2 separate regions of the Homo sapiens genome follow, and region 2 is linked to region 1. A link means that fine-mapping ties the variant in region 1 to the expression of a gene that starts in the linked region. Tissue or cell type: lung. Region 1 holds a variant in brackets; the other region holds the start of a gene. All regions are shown on one strand. Distances are between the middles of the regions.

Region 1 (4,351 bases):
AATTGTTTGCAGAGCATCCATTTGATGTTGCTGACCCTAGAAAGTTCTTTGACAAGGCACCAAAGGGTGGAAAATTAGTCTTGAAACAATTGCCCTGAAGGAACTTGAAACTGTGGTCTAACAGAAAACAGGATGCAACAACTGGGTCTTTTCCCGTTTGACCAGTATTTGTTGCCCCACCTTACACCTCATGGACACGGGCATTTACCATTTCCAGGAAAGAAAGATCTCAAAAAGAATTACAAACCAAAAGGCAGCCTTGGGTATCAGAGCCCAAATACCAAGAAGCATTCATGTAATGATTTCAGTTTGGCCTCTTTCTTATCTCGGTGCCAATTTCTCAGCAATGCAGAGAAAAATGACTTGAGCTCAGAATTAGGAGATGAACTTTCCATTTGAAATGTGCGTTCTCCTCTGACTTGCTCCATGAACAAGTTAGCTTCCCTGCAGTCCCCTTCATCATGCCTGCTAAGAGGCAAGTGTTTACATTTATCAGGACTGAGCGCTACGAGGTGAGGATTAATTAGTGACTCTACTTAGAATTATTTTTAAAATATCAAGAATAATTTGCTTCCATAACAAATTATCCTGGCTTGGGATTCTGGGACAGGATTTGGGATTCTGATCAGTTGCTTCCCTAACAGCCTGACACTGACATTTGCAGAATCTGTTGTGGTTTAACAGGTATTATAAGTTCAAATATCATATTTCAGAGTGTCTGCTATGGTTACAGGTAACTAAAGGTTACAGTTTTCCCCCCATATGATGTCATTTGCTTAACTCAAATGAACTTTGTGCCATTAAAAATGGGGAAACACAATTTATTTCAATGCCATTTGAGTCTGTTTTGAGGTATTGCGGACGGAAATATCCTGGTTACTGGGTTTGGATGATTCATGCAGTAGAGCAGTCTGAGGAATAAACTTTATCTTGTCCTCATCTTTATTTTTGTTTTCTATATGGAAACTAATCATTTGAGGTTGGCAACATGGATTTGGGCTAAATTTCTTCAATGAATTTTTTTCTACGTTTCCCTACTTCAGACCAAAAATCTCCAACCCTAGGCTGTTTTCCAAAAGCAAACCTGCTCATGAGCTCTCTGACAGAGTGCTAGCCTGTCGGAAATTACAGTAAGTCTCCTTCTGAGGTTGGTTAGGCTGAGAATTCATTGTATTTTGGTTAAAAACAGAGTGTTACAATTTGATCCTGGGAGCAAGAAAGAATTAGTAATGAAAACATTGTTGGTGGAGACTGTTGCCTGGTACACAGGCTGAACTCATTTGTCTGGCCCCCGGTACGGGTGGCCCATGTGAAAATACACACATACACACACACACACACACAGACACACACCACCCATCTGTTACGTTTTTCCTGATGCTTCAGGAAAGTCTGCAAATTAAGACAAATGATATTATCTGGGAGTAACTGATCATCTTTTCACTATGAAAATGTCATATTCATAGGAAATGAATAACACACCTGCCAAAAATCAGGTCGCCTAAATGAAGGGATCAAGGGATTGAATACCCATGGAGAAAATAAGACAGACACAATCCAACTGTTCTATACTAGTTGACAGCAACCTATTCTAATGATATGGTTAAGATTTATAATGGCCATATAGGTTTACCTTCTCCAACCAAACTATTTAAATAATTCCACAAGTCTCCTATTTAATATTGAAGACCATCTCCTTAGCTAAAATTATTATGCTTTAATTGACCATATATAAATATCGGAGGGTTTTGGAGAGTACCATTAGACCATGCACAACCAAGCACAGTTGGATTGAGCCTTGAAGATGTGCATGGTTCCTCCCGCCCGTGCTCTTCCTGGTGAATGAGTAGCTTTTTTCCCTGCACTAATCTGTTCAGTTTGAGGGCTGCTGGAAGCACTACCTTTTATTCTCTTTTCATTTTCTTTACTTCACTAGTTCACAGAGCTGGAGGCCACAGGACTGTTTGTTACATCATCACTGCTTTAAAAGCTTATTTTTGTGAATGCGATTGTACTTGGGGGTTGTCAAAACCTGTGGAAATGTGGCCTTTGGTGACCGGCCATGGCATAATATGACAACATTTCTGGAGTAGTCCAGCACTGGGAATGGTACCCTTGGGTCAGGCAAGTAGGAGGCAGTCATTTTTGTCTCTGGAGCTGCTGGCACTCAAGCGTAGAGGAGGTAGACATTTCAATGGCCAGTTGCTTTTGTATTTAAACAAATAGATCCTGGATTGTAGATTTTTAGAAAACTGCAGATGCAACCTGCAACAGAATCACCTGGTTAGCTTACTCCCCTACCAGCTGACGAGTCTTAGATCAGATATACTGAAGCACAGCCTCTGGGGATGGGGCACTCAGGAATCCAAATTTCTTTAAATAAACTTTAAATTTTAGAATAGTTTCAGATTTGCAAAAAAGTTGTAAAAATAGTACAAAGAGTTCCCATATACCTCATACCCAGTTTTCCTTATTAATATCTTACATTAGGATACATATAATATACATTTGTACAAATGTGCAATGTAAGTAATATAAAATGTACATTTGTACGATATACGTTATCTGTATCATAATGTAATGTACAATGTAAATCCTAATGAAGGATACAGGTAATGTACTTTGT[G/A]ATGTACAAATAACATCTTACATTAGAATGCAGATAATGTACATCTCCCCCACTCGTTTATTTATTTGATCATTTTTTTATGTCAGTATGGACTCATGAATACCAAGTTATATTTCAGTACCACATTATAAATGTACATTATCTGTATCTTAATGTAAGATATTAATAAGGAAAGCTAGGTGTGAGGTATATGGGAATGCTTTGTACTAGTTTTAAAATTTTTTTGCAAATCTGAATGTATGAATGTACATTAGGTGCATTTGTCACAATCTCATGATTAACCAAAGTCAATACTCTATGACCTGATGTCCTTTTTCTGTAAGATTCCATCCAGGATGCCACGTTACATTTAATTGTTACGTCTCCATAGGCTCCTCTTGGCTGAGACAGTTTCTCAGACTCTCCTTGTTTTCAGTGACCTTTGATAGTTTTGAAGGGTCCTGGAGAGTATTTTGTAGAATGTTCCTTAGTTGAATTGTTTGATGTTTTTCTCATGTTTTAACTGAGGTTATGGGTTTCTGGAAGAAAGATCACAGAGGCAAAGTGCCCTTCTCATCACGTTGCATCAGTGGCACCCTCAACGCAACTCACAGTTGATGTTCACCTTGATGACCTGGCTGAGGTAGTCTTGACAGGTTTTTCTACTGTAAAGTGATTCTTTTTTCCACCTTTTCATACTTTACTCTTTGGAGGGGAGTCACTGTGGATAGCCCGCACTTAAGGAGTGGGAGTTGTACTCCACCTCCCTGAGGGGGAGTAGCTACATACATGATGGAATTCTTCTGTCTAGAGATTTATCTATTCTCCCCCACTTGTTTATTTATATGTTCATTTATTTATGTCAGTATAGACTCATGAATATCAAGTTATACTCCAGTGCTACTTTGTTAATCAGATTGTTCCAGCTTTGTCCATTGGGAACTCTTTCAGTGGGATCCCATGTCTCTTTGATGTATCCCCTTTCTTGTGATGTTTTTGGGAGCCCTTCCGGCACTTTCTGCCACTACAAGATGCTCCAGGAATTAACATTTTTGACCAGCTCTATCATACTGAAAAAAACCAAGATTTATCATTTTCGGCCATCAAGACCAGAAATTTTAAATGTCCCGCTTATTGTTGGATGTGGAACAAAGCTGTCAAAAGAAAAATCACACTAAAGAATGTGTATGTATCTTCAAAATCTCTCTGTTTATTTGGTAACATCTATAGCCCAGGCACGTACAGAGAGGCAGTTATTTAAATCCAATCAAGAGACTAAGAAGTTCAAGAGATCTATTGTATAACATGGTAGCTATAGTTAATAACAATGTATTGTACACTTGAAAATTGTCGAAAGAGCAGATTTTAGGTGTTATCACAAAAATCATAATGAGAAGTACATGAGGTGATGCATAAGTTAATTAGTTTGATCTAGCCATCCACATGTATATACATTTTAAAACATCAGGTTGTACACCATAGACACATATACTTTTTGTCAATTTAAAAAAGTAGTGATTTTTTTTTAAAGAGACTAAAAATTGAGGAGAATCATCTATGAAACATTTTCCTGGAAACCACAAGGCTTTTGGGCCACAGGCACCTCACTGGGTGTGGATAACAATTGTTGAGTTAGCCCAGCCCCTATCAAAGAGGATCTTAAGCCATATCAACCACTTCTTAGGATTTTCTGGTGACTTCTGAGAGAGGAAGAGTCAGAAACACCCATGGGCAGTAACACCCAGG
Region 2 (4,175 bases), 67 kb before region 1:
GCATCACCATCTTGGACAAGCACCGCCATTTTAAGTTCCCCTTGATTAAAAACCGCCTAAATCCAGCCCCAGAAACATCAGCCTAATGGCTAATGTCAGCATGACCATAAACCACAAATAACACTTCTGACCAGAAACTTTCCAACCCTGAGATAAACCCCACTCTGATCAGAAATATGCCTCCCCTCCAACCAGAGACATTACACCCCTGACAATAAAACTCTCCTCCACCCAGAAACATTCCAAGTCTACAATATGCTCTCCCTCCCTAAACCACTAAATACCTTTAGTCTGTAAGAGAGAACACTCCTGACCGAAATCGGCCAGAAGCCCCTCTCAGGTTTATTCTCCAAAATAAACCTGTCTCTGTTAAGCTGCTTTTTGTGTTTCTTTCTTTAACTCTTACAGTTTCCATCTCCAGGCTCAAGAAAGTTTACTTTCTCATTTCTTCTTCCCTCAAATGCACTAGAATAGATCCTTACTTAGGGCCTTTGAATTAGTGTTATCCTTTTCCTGGAATGCTCTATGCTCTGATTTTTGCGTCTGTTATTCAAATCGCTGCTAAAATATCTCCTCCTTAAAAGGGCATCCCCTTTACTAGCCACTCAGTCACCATCACCATCACGTCACTTATTGTAACTTCTTTGCATACAGCTTAAAACCAACAGATTTTTTTTCTTTTCACCCTCAGATAAGTTCCCTAGAATCTACACTACTTGTCTTCATCATTGTTCAATCAACAGCCTAGAGTAGTGTTTGTTGAATGAAGAAATGAACAAACGAATGCACCCTTTCTTCCGTGACCCTCTCCTCTGAACAGGGCAAAACTTAACTCATAACGAGGATACACTCAAAAATGTCTTTCTTATTGCCAGGTGTTTCCACTCTTGAGGAACAGATGCCCTTTAGGAGACAGGGCAATTTGACTGGACTGGCCCTTCCGATTTTAGGTGAAAATAATCACCATAACAGCTTTTCATCTCTGGCTAGGCTTCCCAGTGACCAAAGCTTTACTTTCCGATTTCCATACCACGTAAAGACATCAGGGTGAGCACTAGGGCCCTGAGAACCCTGGAAGCTACTTCTTGGCTGGGATAGGGCTGGTTGCCCGGTGCGCTGTGAGTGGTCCTCCCCGGAGATGCTGGGAGAAGGGGCGGAGCCATCAGAAAGGATGAGCCTTCCTTGGGCCTTCGGATCTGGTGGGGCTGCCACTTTGGGAAGGGCCCCGGGCTTCGGAAGAAAGCAAAACTAGCCTTGTGGCGAAGAAGGAGCCCAGCTGGCCCCAGGCTGTTAAGACTAAGGGGTCGAGGGAAAAGAGGCAGAGCCTGAAACCAAATCTGCGGAGCAAGCCAAGGCCTGGGGACTTGCCAGAGGGAAGGGTTAAGCCGTTTCCAAGGCAACGGACCAGGAAGCGCGCAAGACGTCCGCCGCAGGTTCGTAGGTCGCCCTCGAATTTAAAGCTCCCAAGGCTGAGTGGGTCCCGGCCAATGGAGAGGCCCCCTTTAAGTCATGTGACCAGCGGGGCTGCCCCGCGGGCTGCTCCGCGGGCTGCACTGGAGCACGTGGGAAGGCTTTTTTTCCTGTTCCTTCTTTCCCTTTTTAAACGCCCACCCACTTTTGCGCGGGCTCGGCCGCGGAATTTTTCTCGCGAGAGGCGCGCTGCCCTCTCGCGAGAGAGAGTGGGAGGCGTGGAGAGTAGGCGGTGTTGCGGGCCGGAGCTGCGGCGGCGGCGGCGGCGGCGGAAGCCGAGGGGTGGGCAGGGCGGGGGCGGGCCGCGGGGCTGGGAGGGGGAGGGCTGGGGGTCAGCGCGGGAGGGGGCCAGCTTGCTTGCCCGGCTCGCTCACGGGTCGTTGAGGCCGGTGACATGTCTGTGAGCTGCGGAGGCTGCGGCCCCCAGGTGAGCCGGGCGCCGACGTGCTCGCCGCGGAGGCTGCGTTTAGATGGGGTGGCGGCGGGTGTGCGGCCGGCATGGATGGAGCGGCCCGGCTCCGGCGCTCCAGCCCCTCCGCCTGCCGCTGGTCCCCCTTCTGGCTTCGGGGCCGCCCGAGAGCTGCGCCTTCGCATGGCGGAGGGAGGAGGGCGGGAGGAGCGCGGCCGAAGGAGGAAACTCACCGCACCGGGCCCAGAGTAGAGGGAGGTGCTGGGTCTCGAGACGCGTCTTCCTGGGGTCCCAAGTGTGGCGGTGGAGCTGCCGCCCCTTTTAATGACAGGCTGTTTCCATCCCCGGGGTGGTCTTCAGAGACGGCCCCCCGGGTGCGTGGTGCGCGTGCTTAGTGTGTGTTCGTGGTGTGCGCACAGGAACATTTGCAGCGGTTGGGAGGACGTTGCACTTTGTTCCCGAACAGCATCCTTCACTGTCAGACCCCCGGAGCCTTGGAAGCAGGCGCTGCTCAGATCTTGTAAACGGAAGGCGTCAAGGGGCTCCTCAGAGTATTGATATTTGGATTTGCTGTCAAATACTCTCCTAGGCTGTTAATGGCTTAAGGCTGGCCATAAAGTACCCCGAATGGATTGAGTATACTGCTGTTAATCCAGGCATCTAAGCTGCTTTATAAAAAATATGTAGATGTAACCGAAGTATTAAAAAGTGACAATGACAGTAAAAGCTAACATTTTTTCTCTTCCCCATATTACCAGCTTTCATTTTTTTTCTCTGCTTTGTCTGTCTTCTAAAACCATATAAAGTTGGATGTGGTTTAGCTTTAGATGTTAAGGAGTTTCATGGTGAGAAAGACTGCTGAGATACATACCTAATAGCTTTAGTACAAACTGGAGTTAATTCCTGTTCTCTTTTCAGCTTTTCAATCGCTTGCAAAATGCTCGTTTTGCTTAGCTGCTTCCCACTGTTTTAGAAATGTCATGTCGATTGTTATTTTGTTATGTCTGAAAATACTCAAAATATGGAGTACTAAGAAAAAATGGGGTATCAGTAATGCACAGATATATTTTTTTTAATGTCATCATTTTAGGATGGCAGCCCAGTGCCTGGCATGATTGGTGTCAGTTAAAATAGTGCAATTGAATGATTTTTTTTTTTTTTGAAAAACACATTTACTTTTTCAAACGGTACCCTGATTATTCATTTTTTCTTGTCGTTGTTCCTCCTGACAAAACTGACCCAGGGGTGGACAGTGAATGTCACTATTGTAGCTGTAACAGTAATTTATGAAAGGTCAAAGAATGTAAGGAAATCAGGGAAGAAGTGGGTTCCCAAGCTGAGCTAGAGACTAATGTATGTACCCACATAACTGCAGTATCGACAATATTGATAAGGGCCTAGCAGTGGACTCCTAGGCCAGTGATATTTTGCAGTTGTTGAGGATATGGGAAGTTGCCTAAGACATGGAACCATAGTGAGAAATTCTCTAGCCTTCTCTAGCCCCCTGAACTCCAGGGATAAGTCTAGAAGCTGAAGAAGTCCTCTTTTGCCTTTAGAGGCTGGAAAAAATACGGTACTTTTAATTTTTTTATTTTTTAATTTTAGGAACTTACTGTCTGGAAAAGGAACTCAAACCAATTTGGACAATATATTAAAGGCCGTTTTAAGAGAAAATGCCAGTTGTAAATAGGTAGAGGAATTCTGTCTATACGTGACAAAAATGTGAAAGACTTAGAAAATATCTCTTTGTGAATGGGCAGAGGAGACCAGTGTTGATTAGAAAAAATTCCTTCTTACTCCATCTTAGCAAACTAATTTTCAGAAGTAGAAAAATAAATTTTTTGGCTGGTCTTCATAACCTTTTGGCAAGGGTTTCAAACTTGTAGGGCGTGTGGTGTTTGGTTTTTCAAAAGTAATTGAAGTAACTTTGGATAGGGTAACTGATTTTGTTTTTTTTCCTGTCTTGTGGTCTGCATTTTATTAATCAACTACCTGGAAGGATTGAAGGGTGAGGACAGGTCGAGAAAAGCTTTAAGTTAAGCCTGGGCATGAGTTAAGGGTCAATGAGCTGGTAATATGGGGAAGAGAAAGAAAAATGCTTTATCAGTTTAAAAACAGCCTGGAAAGATCCAAGTGTCTCGATTCTCCCAGTCATCCTTACATATAAAAGTTTATTAAAAAAATACTTCTGGGCCAGGCTTGGTGCCTTACACTTGTAATCCCAGGACTTTAGGAGGCTGAGGCGGGTGGATCACTTGAGACCAGGAGTTCAAGACCAGCCTGGCCAACATGGAAA

Evidence for each region. PIP is the estimated chance that this variant, and not a neighbour inherited with it, causes the effect.
Region 2: AKAP11 starts here. The variant in region 1 is fine-mapped to the expression of AKAP11 in lung (TOPMed, PIP 0.94).

The regions. Positions count from the first base shown.
Region 1 is chr13:42,337,171-42,341,521 of GRCh38, forward strand. No RefSeq gene overlaps it. Among named protein-coding and RNA genes, the nearest start is that of AKAP11, 67 kb to the left of the region's middle. The variant G/A (reference allele first, on the strand shown) is at 2,627.
Region 2 is chr13:42,270,332-42,274,506 of GRCh38, forward strand. It overlaps AKAP11 (A-kinase anchoring protein 11), which reads left to right and starts at 1,821. Exons shown (of 13, transcript NM_016248.4): 1 at 1,821-1,897. RefSeq lists an enhancer at 1,011-1,190 and a silencer at 1,731-2,080.